Linked DNA regions of Homo sapiens: region 1 is linked to region 2. The links come from fine-mapping of genetic effects on gene expression. A gene starts in region 2. The other region holds a variant in brackets. All regions are shown on one strand. Distances are from middle to middle. Region 1 overlaps TGM4 (transglutaminase 4). Region 2 holds the start of TGM4 (transglutaminase 4).

What was found.
Region 1: its variant is fine-mapped to the expression of TGM4 in testis (GTEx, PIP above 0.99).

What each region holds. Positions count from the first base shown.
Region 1 is chr3:44,894,568-44,902,567 of GRCh38, forward strand. TGM4 (transglutaminase 4) reads left to right here. Exons shown (of 14, transcript NM_003241.4): 6 at 2,142-2,249; 7 at 6,957-7,131; 8 at 7,226-7,364. Among named protein-coding and RNA genes, the nearest start is that of TGM4, 24 kb to the left of the region's middle. RefSeq lists an enhancer at 3,981-4,522. The variant A/G (reference allele first, on the strand shown) is at 4,543.
Region 2 is chr3:44,862,279-44,878,141 of GRCh38, forward strand. TGM4 (transglutaminase 4) reads left to right here and starts at 12,330. Exons shown (of 14, transcript NM_003241.4): 1 at 12,330-12,419. The coding sequence starts at 12,401. TMEM42 (transmembrane protein 42) reads left to right here. Exons shown (of 3, transcript NM_144638.3): 2 at 1,919-2,065; 3 at 2,762-3,386. The coding sequence ends at 2,902. It also overlaps a transcript of KIF15 not described here and the pseudogene PPIAP18. RefSeq lists a silencer at 94-143.

The DNA.
Region 1 (8,000 bases), 28 kb after region 2:
AGGGCCAATGCCTTCGTGCAGCCATGAGGCAGAGAAGCTGGGGTGTGAGGATGCCAGACACCAGATGCTTCCCACCTCCCCTCCCCCAAGATTTGACAACAAAAAACTCCTGGGAAATGCCAGGCATTTCACAGCTGCTTGAGTTTCTCCTCCTCCCCCTGGGTCTGGACGCCTAGGACAGGATGGAAGTAGGGACAAGGGAGGAAGGACTCCCAGCTGGCGAGGCTCCCACTGTGTGCTCTGTGCAAGGTGCGCCGAGTGCCCTCTCCACCCTCACTCATTCCTAGAAGGCCCTCAGCATCCTCTCCTCACACATGAGGACCAGAGGGAAATGAAATGGAAGGGAGTAGCTGGCAAGGAGACAGCCAAACGAACCGCAGGAGGGGTAGGGAAGAAGGAATCACCTGAATCCTAGGGAGTTTCCCCTCTTAGAAAATCAAGGGGTGGGCCGGGCACGGTGGCTCACACCTGTAATCCCAGCACTTTGGGAGGCCGAAGCAGGCAGATCATGAGGCCCGGAGATCGAGATCATCCTGGCTAACACAGTGAAACCCCGTCTCTACTAAAAATACAAAACATTAGCCAGGCGTGGTGGCACGTGCCTGTAATCCCAGCTACTTGGGAGGCTGAGGCAGGAGAATCACTTGAACCCGGGAGACGGAGGTTGCAGTGAGCCGAGATGGCGCCACTGTACTCCAGCCTGAGCGACAGAGTGAGACTCCATCTTGAAAAAGAAAAAAAGAAAATCAAGCGGTGATTTTAAGAAGCCCAAAGAGTGACTGGGTATGGAGGCTCACACCTGTAATCTCAGCACTTTGGGAGGCCAAGGTGGGAGGATGGCTTGAGGCCAGGAGTTCAAGGCCAGCCTGGGCAACATAGGGAGACCTGGTCTCTATAAAAAATAAACAAATTAGCTGGGCATGGTGATGCATGCCTATAGTCCCAGGCAGAGCTGTGGGGAGGGGGGACTGCAGTTGGAGAGGGAGGTGGGTGGATCACTTGAGTCCAGAAGGCTAAGGCTTCAGTGAGCAGTGATTGTGCCACTGTACTGTACCCTCTCTCAAAAAAATAAAAAATAAAATAAAAATAAAAAGAATCTCAAAGAATTGTAACCACAAAACTCCCCCAGACTCCTTCTGGAACATAAACATTGTGGTCTATTCCTTTTATTTTGGTAGTTTTTCCCTCAGGTTACAAAAGTAACACATGTACTTCAACTCTGTAAATATACAGATATTTATGGATAATTACAGATTGAATCATCCAGTTTAGATGGTAAATTTTATGAGATATAAATGATATCTTGATAAAGTGGCTTACAGTAAATAGAATTTCAAAAGTAACGTGCTTATCACAAAAGACTTAGGAAACACAGAAATGTGGAAAGAAAATAAAATTATTCATAACCTCCTCCCTCAGTGATAATGACTTAACATTTTAGTGTATTTTATTCTATTATCTATTACTAAGGCTTACATAGTTGTAATGCTATTTGTTCACAATTTTGTAGCCTGTTTCATTTATTCATTTATTTATTTATTTTTATTATTATTATTTTTTTGAGACAGAGTTTTGCTCTTGTTGCCCAGGCTGGAGTGCAATGGCACGATCTTGGCTCACTGCAACCTCCGCCTCCTGAGTTCAAGCGATTCTCCTGACTCAGCTTCCCGAGTAGCTGGGATTACAGGCATGCACCACCACGCCCGGCTAATTTTGTATTTTTAGTAGAGACAGGGTTTCTCCATGTTGGTCAGGCTGGTCTTGAGCATCCGACCTCAGGTGATCCACCTGCCTCGGCCTCCCAAAGTGTTGGGATTACAGGCGTGAGCCACCGCACCCGGCCTGTTTCATTTATTTGACTTGATTACAAAGGAATTTTCCCCATGGTATTAAAAACTTCTTATACTTCCTTTTAGTGGCTGCATGCTAGAGCTCTATAAACTTACTTAACTACTGTCCTGTGGCAGGACATTTAAATGGTTTCTAATTTTCAGTGCTGTGGTGGACTTTTTTATGAGACTGTAGGCAGGGGAGATGGGTTACGCTACAGGGTGGCTGTGACATGCAAATTAGATGGTATGTGTTAAGTTTCTGACACAGGGCAAAGTCTTAACTGCCTCTTTCTTCATTTCCCAAAATAGTTTGAGAAAAATGTCCTGGACTGCTGCATTTCCCTGCTGACTGAGAGCTCCCTCAAGCCCACAGATAGGAGGGACCCCGTGCTGGTGTGCAGGGCCATGTGTGCTATGGTAGGTATGGAAAGCCTGGGCTGATGCTGTCTTGTACTTGCCAATTGCTCAGCCTTTTTCTGTTTTTCCTCATCTAAACTGTAAGCTCTTTGAAGTACACCACTGTGCTATGGCCAATCAATTGTTCAAAACTATTAAGAAATAGACATTGCTGAAATCTGTTCTGAGCGCAGGTTTTCTTTTCTTTTTTTTTTTTTTTTTTTTTGAGACAGAGTCTCATTCTGTCACCCTGGCTGGAGTGCAGTGGCACGATCTTGGCTCACTGCAACCTCCACCCATCCAGGTTTTAAGCAATTCTCTGCCTCAGCCTCCGGAGTAGCTGGGATTACAGGCACATGCCACCACGCCCGGCTAATTTTTTGTATTTTTAGTAGAGACGGGGTTTCACCATCTTGGCCAGGCTGGTCTTGAACTCCTGACCTCGTGATCCACCCGCCTCGGACTCCCAAAGTGCTGGGATTACAGGCGTGGGCCACCGCGCCCGGCTTTCAAGTCAGACCTGAGTCTGAACTCCAGCCCTGCCACTTATGGGCTGACGTTAGGTGTAAATGGCTTCAACTGTCTGAGCCTCAGTTTCCCCCATCTGCAAAATGATATTAATACAGAAGGTCCTCTTTCTACCTGCAAGCTGGGCTCCAGTTGGGTGAGCAAACTGTTGCAGTTCACTTGGGACTTTTCTGGTTTTAGCACTAAGAATACTGTGTTCCAGGAAACCCCTCAGTCTTGGGCAAACAGGATGGTTGGTCACTCTATTCTGCCTGGCCACTTGGAAGTCAGTTTGTTCAGAGTGGCAGTTCTCAAATATTTTGGTTTCAAGACCTCTTTGCACTTTTAAAAATTATTAAGGACCCCAAATAAGTTGTATTTATATGGTTTATATTTACCAATATTTACTGTATTAGAAATTAAAACTGAAAAGGTTAAAACTATTTATTCTAAAAGAATAATTCCATTACATGTTAACATAAATAACGTATTTTTATTTTTAAAAACCTATGTTTTTCGAAGCATAAAATATGTAGTGAGAAGAGTGGCATTGTTTTCCATTTTTGCAAATCTCTTTAATGTCTGGCTTGCTAGAAGTCAGCTGGAATTTCATATCTGCTTCTGCATTCATTGTTTTAGTTGGAATATATGAACATCTGGCCTCACACGGATACGTAGATTTAAAAAGGCAGAGGACGGCCGGGCGTGGTGGCTCAGGCCTGTAATCCCAGCACTTTGGGAGGCCGAGGCAGGCAGATCACGAGGTCAGGAGATCGAGACCATCCTGGCTAACATGGTGAAACCCCATCTCTACTAAAAATACAAAAAATTAGCTGGGTGTGGTGGCACACACCTGTAGTCCCAGCTACTGGGGAGGCTGAGGCAGGAGAATCACTTGAACCCGAGAGGCAGAGGTTGCAGTGAGCCAAGATCGCACCACTGTACTCCAGCCTGGGTGACAGAGCGAGACTCTGTCTCAAAAAAAAAAAAAAAAAAGAAGCGGGGCGGGGGCAGGAATATTCCCATAGCCTTTTCAGATAATGGAAGATACTATACTGAAGCTCTGTAAGTGGCAGTTTCTTAAAGTTGGTTGCAATGTGGAATCTGAAACCACGATTTTTCATCCTTTGTACACTTATGAGAGAATGAGAGTGAAGAAGGCAAATATTACCTTGGGATTATTATGCAAGTAGTTTTGATCACAGAACTTGGAACTCCCAGGGATCTCCCAATGCCAGTGAGGACCACTCTCCAAAGGTCCACTGAGTTCAGCCAACTGGCTGCTCTTGCCATCTGTGGGTGGCAGGCAGACGTATGTTCATCTCCAGGTGAGTCTGTGAGCTGAACTGCTGCGACAGACGGATCTTAAGTAGGGGCTCTTGAAATGCCCTCCTTGCAGAGTGGCTGTGAGCCTGTGTCTGTTGCACGTGGTATGCCTCATAAATGCTGGGGCTCCTGTTCCCCTGCACCTTAGGGGCTGATGGGATTACCGGGGGCCCTCACGCTGACTCTCTGGGGCCCAGGAGTCCACCATGCCTGCTCTTTCCCCTTCACCCCCATGCTGGTATGTTCATTCTCTAGCCCAGGGGCCAGCAGGTGGCCAGGCTGGATGCTGAGAAAGAACAAGTAAAGGAGACCAAGTCATTAGCAGGCAGAACTTGCCATGAGGGGCTCTAGTTCTCAGTGGTGCAGGTGGACTGGCACGTACCTGGCTGCTTCTCCTTTCAAGCTCCATGACTCTGGACAAGATTCTAAACCTCTTTGGGCCTCTGTTATCTCATCTTTTGGGTGATTATGAGGTCTCAAT[A/G]ACACACAACAAGTGCCCAGCCCAGGGTCTGACACGCTTTGGGCCCACGAGTAGCCTATTCCCAGGTCATTCTTATGCGTGGTGGGGTTTGGGAAGCAATGGGCTAAGCCGCTGCTTGTTTCAGTGATGAGGAAACCAGCCGGGGGAGAAGGGGCAGTTCGCCAAAGGCTGCACAGTGAAGTGGTGGTTGAGCCAGCTGTGCTGACTCCTGGTGCAGTGCTCCTTCCTAGTGCCCTGCCAGCCACCTCCTCAGGCTGTGAGGCAAGCATGGGCAATTCAGAACTCCAAGGTGTTCCAGGAGTCACTTCCAAAATTAGGTTACTGCAGATTAGCTTCCACGCTCGGGAGTCTGAGAACCCCAGCCCACTTCAGAGGCCCTCCCCTTTTCCAGGTTCCCTATAAAGGTTGCCCCTTCACCCTTAGAAATTCGTGGCTATCCATGGGCCTCCTGGATCTGTGAATTTCTGACTAGCAGGCAGAGCTTCTGGCAGGGTCGCCTAAAGACGACTCCCACACCAGGCAGGGAACCTCGGCGCAGCAGTGAGTGCGTTCATTATCCATTGCTAAGTAATAAGTTACCCCAAGACACTGTGGCTGAAACAACAAACATCCATTATCTCCCATGTCTGTGGGTCAGGAATCCAGGTGTGGTTTAGCTGAATGTTCTGGCTGAAGATCTCTGGGGGAGGACCTACTTCCAGGCTCACTCACCTAGCTGCGAGCAGCCTCAGGTCAGGGCAGCTCATAGCATGGCAGCCAGCTTCCATCAGAGTGAGCAAATAAGAGAGGGGGTGCCCAGGCTGGAAGCCACAGCCTTTGTCACCTCATTTCAGAAGTGACAGCCATCACTTTTGCTGCATTCTGTTGGTTAGAAGTGAGTCACTGGGTCTAGGAGAGGGGATTACTGGGGACCATCTCGGTGACTGCCTACCATGCCTGGGCACAGAAATGTGCTTTGTTCCGCAGGGGGATAGAGCCTCGTGCATCAGGAGTTTTGAAAGTCCTGATGTCCTTTGGGCTCAGCGTCACTCCCCTTCTTTCCCTATCTCCGCCCTCCCCTACATTGCTCTATAGACGGCTTGTGTCTAGCAGGCGCTGACAGGCTGGGGCCGCTTAATTTCGCAGGAGGACGCAGCAGCCGGACCAGGGCAGTGGCTGGGTGACAGTTAAGATGGGAGGTATTTCCTGCTTTGCCTAGGACCCTTTGCCTGTCTCTCTTTCATCTGTTTTCATTCCGTCTGACCACTCTTGAGTCTGGCGGTGGCCTCTGCTCTCTCTCTGATTTTGATGAATGAAGAGGCTTGTCCAGCCACAGGACCTGAGAGGTCACGGGAGGCCCAGGCCACACCATTGTTTGAGACTTCTTGTAAATTAAAACTGAACAAACTCCCAAACAGGATTCAGAAATTGTAGCATACTATAAGGGTTTTAGTTAAACAAACGGACATCTTTAACATCCTGGGAAACATGAGGCACTGTAACTGTGCTTTTCACAAGGCATGATGAGGTTTGCAAAGGACGTTAGTGTGCAGGCCAGGAGGGGATGGGTGGATGTGGTCAAAGCCAGGCCACCACCAGATCAAAGATTTGTGACTGTGTCACCTTTCATGTTTTCGGAGGGTTCCTCTGCACCTGCCTGTACAACCTTCTTTAGAGATTCCATTAAGTGCTTTCAAAGGTGAACTCACAAGGCTTTGTCCTCTCTCTGGTTTTAATAAGGTGGAAAGGATCGTCTGGCCAGGGCTCCTCAGGGGTTAAGAGAGGTGCAGGCCACTGACAATTTAAAAACGGAAGATGCCAAAACAGGCATAGGCTTAACCCAGGTCATCCTCAAAACAACCTAAAGGGACCGGGCATAGTGATTCACACCTGTAATCCCAGCACTTTGGGAGGTTGAGACAGTTGGATTACTTGAGCTCAGGAGTTTGAAACCAACCTGGCCAACATGGTGAAACCCTGCCTCTACAAAAAACTACAAAAATTAACCAAGTGTGGTGGCGTGCGCCTGTAGTCCCAATTACCTGGGTGGCTGAGGTGGGAGGATCACCTGAGCCCAGGAAGTTGAGGCTGCAGTGAGCCGAGCTCACACCACTGTACTCCAGCCTGGGCTACAGAGCAAGATCCTCTCTCAAAAAACAAACAAAACCAACCTAAAGGTAGGTGTTGTAATGATCATCATTTTACAAGGGAGGAAACTGAGGCATACAGCAGTGAGCATCCTCCCCGGTCACTCAAACAGCTGGCATGCTCCTTGGCCCTTCTGGGCACCCCACCTGTTCTGGAAAGCCCACGTCCTCCAAGTACTCTGAGACATTATGAGGTGTCCACTTTGGGGGCTGGGTGGCCAAGCTGGGCTGGCAGCACCTTGTTCTTCTGAGGGGCGGACACTGACCCCACCCCTACGTGTGTGGCAGATGAGCTTTGAGAAAGGCCAGGGCGTGCTCATTGGGAATTGGACTGGGGACTACGAAGGTGGCACAGCCCCATACAAGTGGACAGGCAGTGCCCCGATCCTGCAGCAGTACTACAACACGAAGCAGGCTGTGTGCTTTGGCCAGTGCTGGGTGTTTGCTGGGATCCTGACTACAGGTAAGTGGCAGATCCAGGGGCTGAGGGGAGAGGTCCCAAGGGAGGGACTCCCAGCCCCCACAGTTGCCAACCACCCCACCCTGGATCATTTCAGTGCTGAGAGCGTTGGGCATCCCAGCACGCAGTGTGACAGGCTTCGATTCAGCTCACGACACAGAAAGGAACCTCACGGTGGACACCTATGTGAATGAGAATGGCGAGAAAATCACCAGTATGACCCACGACTCTGTCTGGTAGGGTTCCTCCTTCTCAACCTGCCCTGTCTCCTTCTCCCAGGAATTTTCTTTTTTCTTTTTAGAAACAGGGTCTCTCGCTAGTTTGCCCAGGCTGGTCTTGAACTGGTGTCAAGCAGTCCTCCTGCCTTAGCCTCCCAGGTAGCTGTGATTCCAGGTGCAAGCCACCATGCGTGGCATCCCAGGAGTTTTTTAGCCCAAGCCCAGTCTCCAGGCCCTCCCAACCCAGAGATTCTGCTGAGCTGTGGGGCCCCTTCAGCCTCCCTCAGAGACTGATTCAAGTTGTAGGCCAGTGCTCACTGTTCCTGAAATTCAATATTTTTCAACATTTGGCCTTGGACAATCTGTGCTGGAATCACCTGGGGGTGATTGTTAAAAAATGCAGATTCTTGGCCAGGCATGGTGGCACATGCCTGTAATCCCAGCACTTTGGGAGGCTGAGGTGGGTGGATCACGAGGTCAGGAGATTGTGACCATCCTGGCCATGGTGAAACCCCATCTCTACTAAAAATACAAAAATTAGCTGGGCATAGTGGCACGTGCCTGTAATCCCAGCTACTTGGTAGGCTGAGGCAGGAGAATCACTTGAACCCGGGAGGCAGAGGTTGCAGTGAGCCGAGATCGCACCACTGCACT
Region 2 (15,863 bases):
GCCGCGGGCGGCGCTGCGGTCAGCTGGGGTGGCAGAGAGTGTTTCGCCTCTAATCACGCCAAACCCTCGTCCAGTGTAGGTGGTAAGAGACGTCGGGGACTGAGGCCTCTTCCCTTACCAGGGACCTAAAACCTTTTCTCCGGTTGGGCTAGTTCGCTCTCGGGGAAGAACTACACCTCCTACATCCACCCTCTACCTCTCATTTTAAGTCCCTTGTGCCTGAGCATTTCTCTCCACGTGACTCTTAAGGTGAGAAGCCTCTTGCCCATCCCTTTACTCCGTAATTAACGGGTGTTGTGACCAGATGACCAGTCTGCCCCACTACCAGGAAAATTGGGAGTTTGGGATACTGTAGGCATAAGAGGATACTGACAGAGACGTTCTGGATGTTTTCCTGACGCTGAGAACTCCTAAACTTGCATCCTGGCGTCTGCTAAGGTGTATCTCTGCCTCTCCCTCCCACGTCGTAGACCAGCCTCTGCTTGCTATAGGGGTTTCATTGCGTCTGCAGCCCAAGGTTAGCCTCTGACCTGGACAGTGGTCACTGATTATTTAGGGTTAAGCCTATTTAGGGCTAATCCAGTAGTAGCTGCCATGCTTCAGGTTAGTATCCCATTGGGTGTAGTTCATGGGGTAAGTGGTCGAAAGTAAAATGAATAACTTTGTATGGGCCGTGAAGTTTGTTGTCAGGAACTAGACCTTCATAACCCTTTAAGCAGGTTGCCACTGGCCCATATGCTGCTTTGTGTAAGACAAGGTTGTCCAACTCGCGGCCCAACGCAAATTTGCAAATTTAAAACATGAATTTTTTTGCGATTTATTATTTTTTTTTTAGCTCATCATATATCATTAGTGTTAGTGTATTATATGTGTGACCCAAGACAGTTCTTCCAGTGTGGCCCAGGGAAGCCAAAAAATTGAACACCCTGGTGTAAGTTATAAGCAAGCACCTTTTTCTCAAGACACTATGTGTTCAGCTGCTGAGAAACCATTACAAGTAATAAGTATATTTAGATTCCGCACCCCCCCCCCCCGCCGCCTTGTCTCCAGGCAGGTTTCTAACTCACCACCAAGCAAGGGGGACTGCATATCCTTTGTGTAGGAGGCTTCTAAAGATCTTCTCTTCTCTTGAGACTTTCTCCTTTAAAAAAAAAGAAAGAAAATACCTGCAAGTTCTCCAAGGGATGTCTGGGATCACTAAATAGTCTGAGGTGGTGTTTCCCTCAGGCAAGGCTGTGCCCTAGTTAAGAGCATGGAGGTACACTGCCTGCTTGTGAAGCCTGGTGGCTCTCACCGCTGTAGCACTTTAGGAAGGTTACTTAATGCCCCTGGCTCTTTATCTGTAAAATGAAGTTAAGGAATAAATGAGAATGCTTAAACACAGCCCAGGACCTAACACAGAGTAAAAGCTCAAGAATACCCAGAGGGGGTCAGCCTTAGTGGGCTGTAACTTGTATAGGATTTGGGGGTGGGAATACAGAGCAGACATTGCTAATTCATGCTTTGCCTGATCTCAAGAAATAAGAACTCTACCCTAGGCTTACTACCTACGGAGTAAGAACTACTTGGCCCTCTGGGACTGATCTTCAAGCACTGGTCATTGTGGGACCAATAAGGGGCCGGTGTTCAGTAGAAAATACTGGCTTTGGATTAGCATTTTGCTTCTTCCCAAGATCATATGGCCAGCAAGGTGGCCAAATGAGTATCTTCTCTGAATTTGCTTTATTTGTAAGATGGGTCTGCTGCCCACTGAGGGTTAAGTGAAGCCCTGTGCAGGAAAGCTCTGAGGCCCTCTGAGCTGTAGTGGGAGCTCAGTAGGAGCCTGGGTGCCAGCAACCACAGTCCTGGGTGTGCTTTGAGGGGGTCTGCAGGTTGCTGCCCAGGGTGGACGTGGCTGCAGTGACACTTTCTCCTGCAGGTGAGCATGGGTTTATGCGTCTTAGGCATTATTGTGATGGCGAGCACCAATTCTCTGATGTGGACCTTCTTTAGCCGGGGCCTCAGTTTCTCCATGTCTTCAGCCATTGCATCTGTCACAGTGACTTTTTCAAATATCCTCAGCTCGGTGAGTAGCCTGAGGGTGTGGTGCTCTTGTCCTAAATCTGGGTTCTGGGTGAGTTGTCTTTGGATAACCCCTCCTTTCCCAGACAGGAGAAAGGACAGGAACTGAAGCAGAGGTTGGGCTGTGGCTTGACCCCTGGATGAGTGCTCTATTCATGGAGCAAATGTAATTCTAATCATGGAAGAATTCTTAAGTTAGATATGAGTGAAGCCTGACAGTAAAAAGCCTACTTGCTTGCTGTTCCTCCAGGGTGGAGCCCTCATTCTGAAGTCACTGTGCATCCTAGCTGTTTCCTAGGGTTCTGTGTACTCAAGGCTCCATGGCATTTAGAGGGTTGGGATTCCCAGAAACTTTTCTGCCCTGTGTAGTCTGAGGTTGACAAGATGGAGCTGAGCGTAGTCAATCTTGAGTTGAGGGAGAAACAAATACCATGTACCTGCTGTGTCTACCTGCTGGCATCTGCTGGGTCTTTCTTGTGTACTTTGCTGAGGTCCAGTGCAGTGAGGGAGGTAGCCTCTCCACTCATGCAGGGGAGATTGAATAGAGTGACTTGATGAAGGTGACAGCTAGGTTTCAAGCCCAAGGCTTCTGGCTCCAGACCTTTCCTCCTGGCACCCTTAGAAGGAAGTCAGTCCCAGGAGAGTGAGGTTGTGCCCACCTGCTGAAGTTGAGTCCCTCACAGCTATCTTTGTCTCGCAGGCCTTCCTGGGCTATGTGCTGTATGGAGAGTGCCAGGAGGTCTTGTGGTGGGGAGGAGTGTTCCTTATTCTCTGCGGACTCACCCTAATCCACAGGAAGCTCCCACCCACCTGGAAGCCCCTTCCACACAAGCAGCAGTAGCACCACTTGGCTAGACGGACCAGCTGGAAAGATCATGATGGTGGCCCAGCCTTGGGATGTCATGTGGGACTGTATCCTAGGGCGATCCAGTTGTGCAGCCTTCTGACCATCAGCCAAGGGAAGCAGGCCTCTGATGGAGCAGGCTCTGGCTCTGTAAGGAGAGGTGCAGCTGCAGCAGTGTTCTACCGGAAGTGTTTTGATCATCTGTACAGTGCTTTGGATTCTTCCTCCCAGGCCTACCCCAGTGAGCCTTCGCAGATGCTGGAGATCCTGGGGTTGGTCTGCTTTGTGTATGGTACTTGAAACCACGCTGTAATTATTGTCCTGTTGCCAAACAAAAGCCAGTCATGTAACTCTAGAAGCAGTGACTGGTGGGGCTTTCTGACAGTTCCATGCTGATGTATCAGGCCATCTGTGTCATGCTTATGTATTATGGCAAGAAGAGGAAAACTGGATTAATAAATACGTTTTTTGTAAGTTAAAACTACCAGGTACGGTATCTTAATTCTTTCCTTCCCTTTGGAGTAAGAGGGAGCCAGAGTGAGCTGAAATCCCAATGTGGAGGAGGCAGGAGAGTGAGGCAGGTACAGAAGCCTTGTGGCTTCGGTTGCTCTGACACCTGCTAGAGCTTGATCTTGTGGTTACTTCCTGAGGTCACACAGGCTAAGGCTCTTTGAACTGCACAGGGTCTGTTCATTCTCCTGGTGCTCTCAAGGAGAAAAGTTTGACCTCCCTTTGGAGACCTTGTTTTACTTGGGAAAGAAAGTGGTTCAGAGGTCCCTCCATTCCCTGCCACTCTGTTCCTCTAGCGTTTACCTTTAGGGCTCTTCTGTCATTTGCTTTTCTTTCTCAGATTCCCCTTTGGTTTTTTTTTGTTTTTTGTTTTTTTGTTTTTTTGGGTTTTTTTTTTTTGAGACAGTCTCGCTCTGTCACCCAGGCTGGAGTGCAGTGGCGCAATCTCAGCTCACGGCAAGCTCTGCCTCCCGGGTTCGCGCCATTCTCCTGCCTCAGCTTCCCGAGTAGCTGGGACTACAGGCACCCGCCACCATGCCCAGCTAATTTTTTTTATTTTTAGTAGAGATGGGGTTTCACCATGTTATCCAGGATAGTCTCGATCTCCTGACCTCGTGATCTGCCCGCCTCAGCCTCCCAAAGTGCTGGGATTACAGGCGTGAGCCACTGCACCTGGCCCCCTTGTTCTTTTTGTATCTTAGACCATGTGAATGTAATTCCTAGTTCAAAGTGGGCTGTGTGCTGCCTGCACACTTTCCCAGCACAGAGCCTGAAGCCCGGCACTTACCTGCCTCACTTCTCCCCTGGGGTGTCCGAGGGCCCTCTCAGCTCTCCTGAGTCTGATCTCTGGCCCCAAGTCTTCTTCATACATTTCCTGCAGTTGAGAGGGACCTGGTAGCCAGGAGGCTAGGAGAGCGAAGGGTCTTGTCCAGACCCTCCTCCTCGCCCATGTAGCACCTTCATTGCTCTCCTCCCTTACTGTGGTCAGCACAATTGACAGAATGAGCTTACTAAAACCATTCCACGGCTCCTTCTGATGGGGATCTGGCCCTAGCCCACCACTCCAACAAGAGTTCTCTTCCGCAATGACTCCTTAGTACCCATCTCCCTCATGCTAGCCCCACCATGCTGAGTCCCCCCAGACATCTGCAGGTCAGCCATTCTCAAATCCACCATGTCCAGTCCTGCCAACATGTTTTGTACTTGCTCTTACCCTTGCCTTGGGTTCCCTTTACCTTCACCTCTCGCTGGCAAACTCCTGCTCTTCAAAACCCTTGAGCTCCCATGGGGGCCAGGACAAAGCTGTAATTCACAGAATGTTAATCATTTAGCTCCACTTTGACACATTGCCTCCCAGCCAACCCGTGAGGGAGTTACTCTTGTTCCTGTATTAGAGGTGAGGAAACTAAGGCTTGGGGAAGTGGAATAATTTGCCTGACATCACACAGCTGAGGAGTGCCAGAACCACAATGTCAGCCCGATCTGACTGGGCTCAGCTCAGTCCCTACCTCTGTCCTGCTTCCCACACCAACACCTGAAAACTCAGAGAGGCCCTGCAGTAAGGGGCCTGTTCCATACTGTGACTCAGCATGCCCAAACCTCAGAACCCTTTGGTCACCAGCCACCTACCTTTTCTTAGGGGCTCTAGTGTTGATCTCCCTGATCTAGTCTGACCCCACCATTCTACCAGTGAAGAAGCTGAAGGATATTCAAGGCTTTCCAGGGTGTGTTCACCATATGGGTCAGACACCCAGCCAAGGCCAGACCTGAAGGCTGCTGATAGCTGGTGGTCGGCCTCCCTGGGCAGTTAGTGAAAAGGGCAGAAAGAAGTCCATCTTGGAGCAAGCATTGTCCTGAGAGGACCTGGCCTCCCATCCAGACACTTGCTTAATGCATAGAGATGGTTGGTGTTGACGTGGAACCCTATCACTCAATTCAACAAATATGCCTGTATTTGTACAAGATGTACAAGATGTATTTGTAGAAGACGTATATTTGTACAAGATGTAAGATTTTTTCTAAGAGGAAGATCAGTCATTCTTCAAAAAGCAGGAAGATACAACTCTATAGTCATCTAAAAAGTTGAGGAAACGTTCACTGTATTTATTTTCCTCATTTCAGAGGTTTATTGATAAGAATAAACTATATCAATACTATATCAATATTTGTCTTTTTGGTGTGCATCTTGGATGATGGATTGAACTTTGTTTGCTTGGAGCTGGCAATTTGACATCCAGGTTCAAAGGCCTGATAGGTCATTCCTTTCGTTTAATTTTATTTTTTAACTTACTCTTTTTAAAAGTGTGCAATTCAGTAGTATTTTAGTAGATTCACAAAGTTTTCGACCATTACCGCTAGCTAATTCCAGAACATTTTTATCACTCCAAAAGAAATTCTCATACCCATTAGCAGTCATTTTGTATTCCATCCTCCCCCAGGCCCATGGCAATCAAGGATCCACTTTCTGTCTATAGATTTGCCTGTTGTGGACATTTCATATAAATGGATTATACAACATCAATATATGGCCTTTTGGGTCTTTTTTCACCTAGCATAGTGTTTTCAAGGCTCATTCATGTTGTAGCATGAATCAGTTATTCATTCCTTTTTATGACTGAATAATACTCCATTGTGTGGATCTACCACATTATGTTTATACATTCATCTTTTGATAGACATTTGGCTTGTTTCCCTTTTCTATTCTATTCTAATTTTCTATTAGAATAATGCTGCTTTGAACAATTGTGTACACGTTTTTGTGTGAACATGTTTTCAATTCTATTGGGTATATACCTAGGAATGGAATTGCTGATATAACTATGATACAATATGAGATAACATGTACAGAGGAGAGGTCATTTGAGGACATAGCAAGAAGGAGAGAAGGCAAGCCAGGAAAAGGGCCCTCATCAGAACCTGAATTTGCCAGCACATTGATCATGGACTTCCCAGCCTGCAGAACTGTGAGAAAATAAATATCTGTTGTTTAGGTCATGCAGTCTGTGGTATTTGTTATGGCGGCATGAGCTGACTGATACAACCCAAATGGCCATCCATATTCATCTATGGAATACTACTCTTCAGTAAAAAGGAAGAGAGTATTGATACATGCTATCACAAGGAGAATCATAAAATAATTATGCTAAGTGAAAGAAGCCAGACCCAAAAAGAATATATACCATATAGTTCCATTTATATGTAATTAAAAAGAAAAAAAGGCAAAACTTCAGTGACAGAAGGCAGATCAGTGGTTGCTTAGGGCTGGGAATCAGGGCAAGAAGGAACTTTTTAGGATGATGGCTCTTTTCTACATCTTGATCATAGTGGTCATTACACAACTGTATAAAACTAACATTCTATACTTAAAGTGGGTGAATTTTATTGGATATAAACTATACCTCAATAAAGCTAGGGGGAACTCAGTAAGATGCCATTGATGCCATTTCATACAAGATTGGCAAAAGTTACAAAGTTGAACAAGCAAGGCCAATGTTGTGGATCACTGTGAATTCCCATGTGCTACTGCTGGAAGTATAAATTAGTATAACCCTCTGGAAACATTTTACTATCATCTGACAAAACAGAAGATGTGCCTACTGTTTGAGCCAGCAATTCCAGTCCTGGAAACTCTCACTTGTGCACAAGGAGACATGAACACACATGCTTGTTGCAGCAGTGTTTATAACTGAGAAAAATGTAAAACAATCTAATATCAATGGGAGAATAGAGAAGTTATAGCATACAGTGTATTGAACACTATACAGTGGTGACAAGCATGAATTACATGGAAAAATTACATGAAAAAATCTCAAAATCATAATGTAGAGTGAAAAAAAGTAGAAGGGAGTGTTAAGTATGATAATTTTACAAAAAAATTTAAAACCTTCAATACTACTTATTATTTTAGATATTCACGTTTAGTAAGTATTTTTAAATATGCAAGGGAACTTAAATACCAAACTCAGAGTGGTGGTTACTTTGGGGAGGGAGGAAAGGAAATTGGGGTTGGGAAGGGATATATAAGGGGCTGAGAGCTTCAGTTATAACCCATAAGTTTTATTTCTTGAACTTGATGAGGGAGATGTAAGTTTTCATTGCTGTTTTTTTTTGAATTTTTGTAAGGTTTCATAAATGTTTTTAGACAATACTTCACTGATAAATGGGAACGATCACATTTAACAATCATTAGACATACAAATCTTACTGCTGTTGTTTAGCAAGAAAACCCCAAGATCGTCTTTGCTAGCCGATGTGTGCTCTGGGCTCTTTGGGCCTGGATAAGGAATAGCAGGGCCCAGCCCAGAGTCTGGAGGTGTGGTGAATCAGATAGGTTAGGGTGGGAGGTGAGACAGACCATGTTGGTTCCAGTGGAATTGGCTCCAGGGCTGGACTGGGCAGATAATTATTACTCCAAATTCCAGAGCCATCCAGTTCCTTTGGGAAACAAGGGCTTGGAGGGCTCAGATTTCCCCCAAATCCACTCAACTTGTCATAGATTGAGCTGAGATGGGACCCCAGATAGCCTGGCTGAGAGCCTGTCTTGTCTGTACTGCTTCCGTGTTCCCTTGCTGGTCTTCAATAGGGTCCCCAAAGTTCTTCTTGCCTGGAGGCCTGCAGCAGTGAGTCCTGACTGTCACCAGCATGGTCCCTCACAGGGTAGCCCCTCACCAGAGTTTAAAAGTCAGTCCCCTATGCAGTTAGACCTAATGCTACACCAGGGGGAAAATTCAAAAGAAAAAAATACACAATTTAGGCAACAGGGTTCCTAGCTGCATTACTGCTAGCAGCAGTTAGTTGCCTGATAGTTGAGAAATGGTTAGGCAAATATGGTAGAATATCACGTGCCCACGAACAGGGGTGAGCATTTGAAATAGGCGGATCCTAGACAGTGTCCACAAGGCAGCCTGCCAGGCATGGCCTGAAGTGCCAGGTTTGCTCCATGCAGTGTAAACACATTTGTGTACAATGGCAAGCGCTAGGAGTGGCTTAAAAAGAGGTGACTTCGGGGTTTATTGGATTCTTTTATTTTTCTCCTATAAAGTTGTTTACATATATAATAGGAGTCAGATGAGAGATGAATTTATAGTTTCAGATATAAGAAGAAAAGATTTTGCTCCCACAAATCTGTGGATGCGTATTTACTAACTCCTCCCTGTCTCCACACAAAAAAAGGGGGCGGGGATGCATCAGGATGCCTATCTTTATGATTTAGCTCCGAGCTTAGCACCATGAACAGCAGCTGTGGTGCCTAGAGTCCAACAGGGCCTCAGTTGTTCTTTCATCCTCAGAATTGGGGGGTGGATGCAGAGGTGGGTCAGGGATTAGGCTTGAATCCCCAAAACCAATGTGTATTGGGCTTTCCTTCCAAAAGGGACTCCCAGCATGCGTTGGGAGAAGAGGACACAGCCTCCCCTGACCTCTGCAGGAGGCACCTGCCCCACAGGCACAGGCATGGGGCCGCTCCCAGGCTTCCACCTGAGCACCCTGTCCTGTTTGCTTATTTGTTCATTTATTCATGCATTCCCTCATCTGCTGAGCACTCTGTGCCATGCTATGGGCTAGGGACACAAAATGAGAAGATTCCATTCCTGGCTAAGGTCCTCTATGAACTTCATCTTGAAACGTGTCTTCTGTTCCCCACCTTACCTGGTGGTTTTCAGGCTCTTCTTGCCTGATTTTTCCTTTTCTCCCTCCTCCCCAGCTCCATCATCTGTGGATTAATGTGAAGTGTAGACCATGCCAACTTTTCTGGGACAGCACATTCAGAGCCTCCTGTCCCATGGTGGGGCCTGTGTCTGGTCCTCTTGGAGAGCAGAGAGCAGAGGGTCTTGAGTGGGCTGCCTCTGATCCCAATATGCCTGGAGTTGGCCACCAGGTGCTAGTGCAATACAGTGGCTGCAGTTCAGCAGCTGGTGGGGGAGGGGGATGCTGATGGCCCCAGTGGCCTGTGACTAGACCATGGTGTCAGCTGTGGCCCCAGACAGGAAACATGAGAAAAGATGATCCTTTGGGACCAGCTGACAGATAAAATGCCACATGCACAAGGAACTAAATAAGGGCCGACTCTGCTGAGGCCCGGAAGTTCTGCTGCAGGAAGAGGGAAGGGAGGCTCACGGGGATCCTCTCCTGATGCCCAGGTGGCTGCCTCTCTCTAGGCTGCACTTTTTCCAGCTGTGAAATGAGGTTGTTGGGATGGGGGGGGTCCTTTGTAAGGTCCGCGGTGTAACTCATTTCTTGCAGAGAATTTTGAATGCCTTTGCCTCTTCACAGCATCCTGCTTCAGACACTTGACCTGTGGCGTGGGTGTTATTATTTCCCACCTCCCAGATGAAGAAACAGAGGCACAGAGAAGTAACTTCCCAAGGTCACACAGTGGATCTGTAGAGGACCCAGGATGTAGGCCCAGTTCTGTCTGACCCAAAGTCTATTTCTTTTAGACACTTTTATACTCACTCTGGTACCCTGGATTCTCTGGCCTGGAAGGCACTGGCGAAAGCTCATCTTGCACAAGCCCCTTATTTGTCAAAAATGATGAAAGAAGCTCAGAGAGGTGAAGCAACTAAAACCCGGACCCTCTCACCCCTAGGCCAGGACTTTTATTTAGAGGCTTTTTCCATTTAAGTAGTGAATTTATTCTTAAATAGGTAATTCATGCACATGGTGCTAAATTCTGATGATGTAAAAGGAAATACAGAGAAAAGCAAGCATCCTTCTCCCACTCCTGAGCCTGTAATCATAGGGCCTAGGGCTTCTCTGCAGACAGAACCCAGCCAAGACTTTTCGTAAATGCCATGTGCACTTCAGGGCTTGGTTTGTTCTATTATATTTAGGGATGCGGTGCTGAGATGCTTGCCTGCAGAACAGCAAAAACCTCTGACTTCATTATTGTTATTCAGAGTAACCAGGGTCATTGCTCTCTGGCTTGCCTTAAAGCCAGCAAAGGCAATTGCCCATCCCTGGGCTTTTGGTCTGGAAGAGACCGTTGGCATCATTATTCAGCCCCCTCACTTTTCAGGTAAGGAGCTAATGAAGACAACATTCCCAGTGACACACGGCAAGTTACTGTGGTGTTGGGGTTTCAGTGTCAGGAGTCTCCTCTCTTCCTCTGGCATTTCTGCTACTATGCCAGGCTGGCTCCTTTCAGTAGACATAACATCATTGAAAAATACCACAAGTGCCCCTGTGGAGAGCAGAGCAGATAGCCATTAAAATTACAAAAGCTTATGCTTTTTGGCCCAACATTTCCACTTCAAGGCATTCAATTCTTCCTATAGATACACTCATGTGAGGGTAAAATGATCTCTGTATAACCTTATTCTTTGCAACACTGATTGTAATAAGGAAATATTGGAAGCAACCCAGATGCCTATGGGTGGGAGGTGAGTTACATAAATTAGGGACCATCCACACAAACAGAATATGTGCAGCTGTGAAAAGACTGGGCCACCTCTCCATGTGCAATAGGAACAGCTCCATCTTGCCAGGCGTGGTGGCTCACACCTGTAATCCCAGTACTTTGGGAGGTGAAGGTGGGGCGGATCCCTTGAGCCTAGGCATTCCAGACCAGCCTGGGCAATGCAGTGATATGCTCTCATTGTGTAAATAAAACAAAATAATACATTATTTGCTTTGCAGATGCCACTGCCGCCAGGAGCCCTGTAACATCAGCCATCGTCAACCCCACCGTGTTCTTCAACATCACCGTTGACGGCAAGCCTTTAGACCTGCGTCTCCTTCAAGCTGTTTGCAGACAAGGTTCCAAAGCCAGCAGAAAACTTTTGTGCTCTGAGCACTGGAGAGAAAGGATTTGGTTATAAGAGTTCCTGCTTTCACAGAATTATTCCAGGGTTTATGTGTCAGGGTGGTGACTTCATACGCCATAATGGCACTGGTGGCAAGTCCATCTATGGGGAGAAATTTGATGATGAGAACTTCATCCTAAAGCATACAGGTCCTGGCATGTTGTCCATGGCAAATGCTGGACCCAATACAAATGGTTCCCAGTTTTTAATCTGCACTGCCAAGACTGAGTGGTTGGATGGCAAGCTTGTGGTCTTTGGCAAGGTGAAGGCATGAATATTGTGGAGGCCATGGAGTGCTTTGTGTCCAGGAATGGCAAGACCGGCCAGAAGATCACCATTGCTGACTGTGGACAGCTCTTATAAGTTTGACTTGTGTTTTATCTTAACCACCAGACCATTCCTTCTGTAGCTCAGGGGAGCACCCTCCACCCCATTTGCTCCCAGTATCCTAGAATCTTTGTGCTCTCGCTGCGGTTCCCTTTGGGTTCCATGTTTTCCTTGTTCCCTTCCATGCCTAGCTGGATTGCAGAGTTAAGTTTATGATTATGAAATAAAAACTAAATAACAAAATAATAATAATAGTACATTATTTGCTTCTCAGTGCATACAACATCTCTGGAAAGATCTAAAAGAAACTGGTAGTAGGATTCAACAAGGTGGACAGGGGGCATTTTTTTCCATTTTGAACCATGTGGATGCATTATATATTCAAAATGTAAAACAAAAAACTCACAAGCATCTCTTACTTTTTCAACTTGAAGAAAAGAGAAGAAGAAGAAAACCCTAAAGTCAGTAAAGGTTAGCCTGGGTTCCTAGACTTAAGCTTGATAGTAACCAGAATGTCAGGCCACATGTGGTGTAGGTCATAGGGTCCTGGCTTTTGGTCACCCACTGTTAGGCTCATATAACAGACAAGGAGGTGCCATTGTCCGTTGTCTGTCCCTTTTACATCAGCTCATCTTGGCTCCTGATTTCCTGGGTCTGATATGGAAGATTCCGGGATTTTATTATTTCTAATCAACATCGCCTTCCCAAACCCCGCCCCTTGGCAGCCATAGCAAGGCCACATCTAGCCCAGGATCACATAAAAAGGGCTGTTTCCTCCCCTGAGGACCGACTGTGTGGAAGCACCAGGCATCAGAGATAGAGTCTTCCCTGGCATTGCAGGAGAGAATCTGAAGGGATGATGGATGCATCAAAAGGTGAGTGGGTGAAATCTCCATGGAGCCCCACATGCCCCTTCAGCCAGCTGGCCCTAAACTGCTCTCTTGCCTCTGCCGGGTGCCTGGGGCCATTGCCCTCTCACCCTGACTTGTGGCCCTGGTGCTGCTTGCTTTCTGTCTCATCCCTTTTTAGAAAACCCACAAACTTTTCATTTAGGCATAATTTCAGATTTACAAAAAGATTGCAAGAATAAAAAGAAGAATTTCCATATATCCTTTATCCAGATTCCCTAAATTATTACTGCATTTGCTTTATCCTTCTCGATCAGTGGACAGATAGATGATATAGACAGATAGATAGACAAATATATATTTTTTGAACTCTTGAGAGTAAGTTGCAGATATTACATTATTAAATATTTTGGTGTGTATTTCCTAAAGACAAGGACATTCTCTTACGTAACCAATACAATTATGAAGACCAGGACATGAACACCATTTCAATACTGTTATCCAACCCACAGATTTTATGCAGATTTCATCAACTGTCCCAATAATGTCATTTATAGCAGAAGAAAATCCTGGGTTAGGCTTTGCATTCCGTTGTTGTGCCTCTTCGGTCTCCTTTGTCTGGAATAGTTCTTCTGTCATTCTTGGAGTTTTGTGACTTCAACACTTTTGAAGAGTACAGACCAGTTATTTTGTAGAATGTCTCTCAATGTGTCCTGTCCTTTCTCAAGGTCACCTGATGGATTTCCCTACTGCAGAGGGTCTGTCTGCTGCTGTCAGCAGTGTCATTGCTTCTCAGAGTGGGGAATAGCAGAGCGGAGTCATGTGCCAGGCTCTGTGTCCCATGAGGATGCAGCCGCCTACCACCACCAAGAGCAGACACCAGAGCCCTCAGTTTTACTTCAGGGAGTCCGGGTGCTGCTAGGGAACAACGAGGCTGGGTTTGAACCCCTCTGCTGACTCCCCAGCCCACAAGCCCTCTGTAACCTCCCAGCAGGGTTTGCTCAGCAGCCTTCTCTCTTGCTTGAGAAGCTGCTTGATAAGCCAAGGAATGGCTGCTTTGAAACTCTGCAAAGGGACTAAGCCAGACCCTCCTAGTTTCCACCTTCTTTTTTGGAGGGTGACATTGCGAAATAAATCAGACTCTTCTTTTTAGTCCCAAGGCCACAGAGTTTTGAATTCCTCCTTAGATGGCTGACGCCTCAGCTAGACTCAGTCTTGGAGGGTACAGAGTCCTTAGGACTGAGAAAGGGTGGTGTGGTGTGATGGGAAGCACCTGCTGATTTGAGAGAAGATTCATGTCTAAATAGCCCTGTGGCTTTGGGCAGGTTACATCAATCCCGTGAAAGCACTATATAAATTACTGAGGACTACCTGAAGGAAAGGTAGTCCTGACCCACACTGTCATTTTCAAGAGGTGTGACCTGTTCACTGGGGAGGTTTGATGACTTGACTGAGGTCCCAGCCATGGGTGGCAGAGCTGGGACACAAACCCGGCGTGTGTTCATTTCATGCCACACTATGCTGCCTCCCTGCTGGGCACAATTTGACTTTACTCTCAAGGTCTAAATCACCAAAGACAGTCATCTCCTGGCCACCAGTGTTGGGGTGTTGGTGAGGGGAGCTGACGCTCCCTGAGGTGTCCTTTCTGATGGGCTTGTGCAAGTAACCATCACATGCCACCTTACAACATTAGCAAGTTGTGATGACTCCATGGTGTTTTCATGAATATGATTTCATTTGTTCTTCCAACCACTCTAGGAGGTCAGGACATCCAAATAGGGACCTGGAAGATGGTGATATGTGTGGGATAAAGGTAGGATTTCATATAAATGGAGGAAATGAGAAATTGTGCACTTTATGGTATTAGGACAACTGGTTAGTATTTAGAGAAAAACAAAGCCAGATATCTATCTCATGGCTTATCCCACAACGAATCCCAGAAAGGTCGAAGACGAAACTGTAAAGGCAATAGAAGAAAATGAAGGCAATATGAAAAATAATCTTAGAGTAGAGAAGGTGTTACAAAGGAAAATAGAAAACCTAGAAACATAAAGGAAAAGAACAGTAAAACTGACTCCAGAAAAATTAAAAATATGTGTAAGACAAAACCTCCAGAGTCAGAAGGTAATGGAACTGTGAAGGGTACTTTCAACACATATGAGAAGCAAATGCTGTTCTGTAGTATAAAAAGAGCTCTCAGATCTATAAGAAAATGACCAACATCCCAAAATATACATGGACAAAGAGCAGTATTAGGTAGTTCAAAGAAAAAGAAATATAAATTGTAATATATGAAAAGATGCTCAACCTTACTTGTAACGAGGGTGGTCATGAAATAAAACTGAAACAGCAGGCCAGGTATGGTGGTTCATGCCTATAATCCCCAAAATTTGGGAGGCTGAGGTAGGAGGATTGCTTGAGCCCAGGAGTTCGAGACCAGCCTGGAAAACATAGTGAGACCCTGTCTCCACAAAACAATTTAAAAATTAGCCGTGGCCCAGCAAGGTGGCTCATGCCTGTAATCCCAGCACTTTGGGAAGCCAAGGTGGGCAGATCACTTGAGATCAGAAGTTAGGGACAAGCCTGGCCATCATGGTGAAACCCCGTCTCTACTAAAAAATACAAAAATTAGCCGGGTGTGGTGGGGTACACCGGTAATCCCAGCTACTTGGGTGACTGAGGCATGAGAATTGCTTGAACCTGGGAGGCGGAGGCTGCAGTGAGCTGAGACTGCACTCCAGTCTGGGCAACAGAGCGAGACTTTGTCTCAAAAATAAATAAATAAATAAAAATAAAAATTAGCCAGACATGGTGGTGCATATCGGTAGTTCCAGCTACTCAGCTACTCAGGTTCAAGGCTGCAGTGAGCCATGATTGCAACACTGCACTTCAGCCTGGGTGACAGGCCAAGACTCTGTCTCTTAAAAAAAAAAAAGGTTATATAAAAGCAAAACAGCAATGAGATTTCATTTTTTCATTTATCAGATTAGCCAAGATTAAAAGTTTAATAGTAAATAGCTTTAAAAAGGCATCTTCTCATCTTTTTGTAGGAGTATCACTGGTGCAGTCGCTAGAAGGCTCTCTGGCAACATTTGCTGAAATTAAAGATGCCCATATCCTGTGACACAGCAATTCTGCTTTGGAAGATTTCTCTTACAAATATTGTCACACATGAGTGCAAAGATACATGTACAAGGAAGTACATTGTAGCATATAAGATTTTAAATGGTCTACATGTCCATCCAGGGGGATAATAGCTACTAAAAAGTAACAAGGTTGAGACCAGCCTGGGCAACATAAGGAGACCCCTTCTTCACAAAAAATGAAAAAATTAGCTGGGTGTGGTGATGCATGCCTGTAGTGCCAGCTACTCAGGAGGATGAGGTGAGAGGATTGCTTCAGCCCAGGAGGTCGAGGCTGCAGTGAGCTGTGATCACACCATTGCACTCCAGCCTGGGAAACAGAATGAGA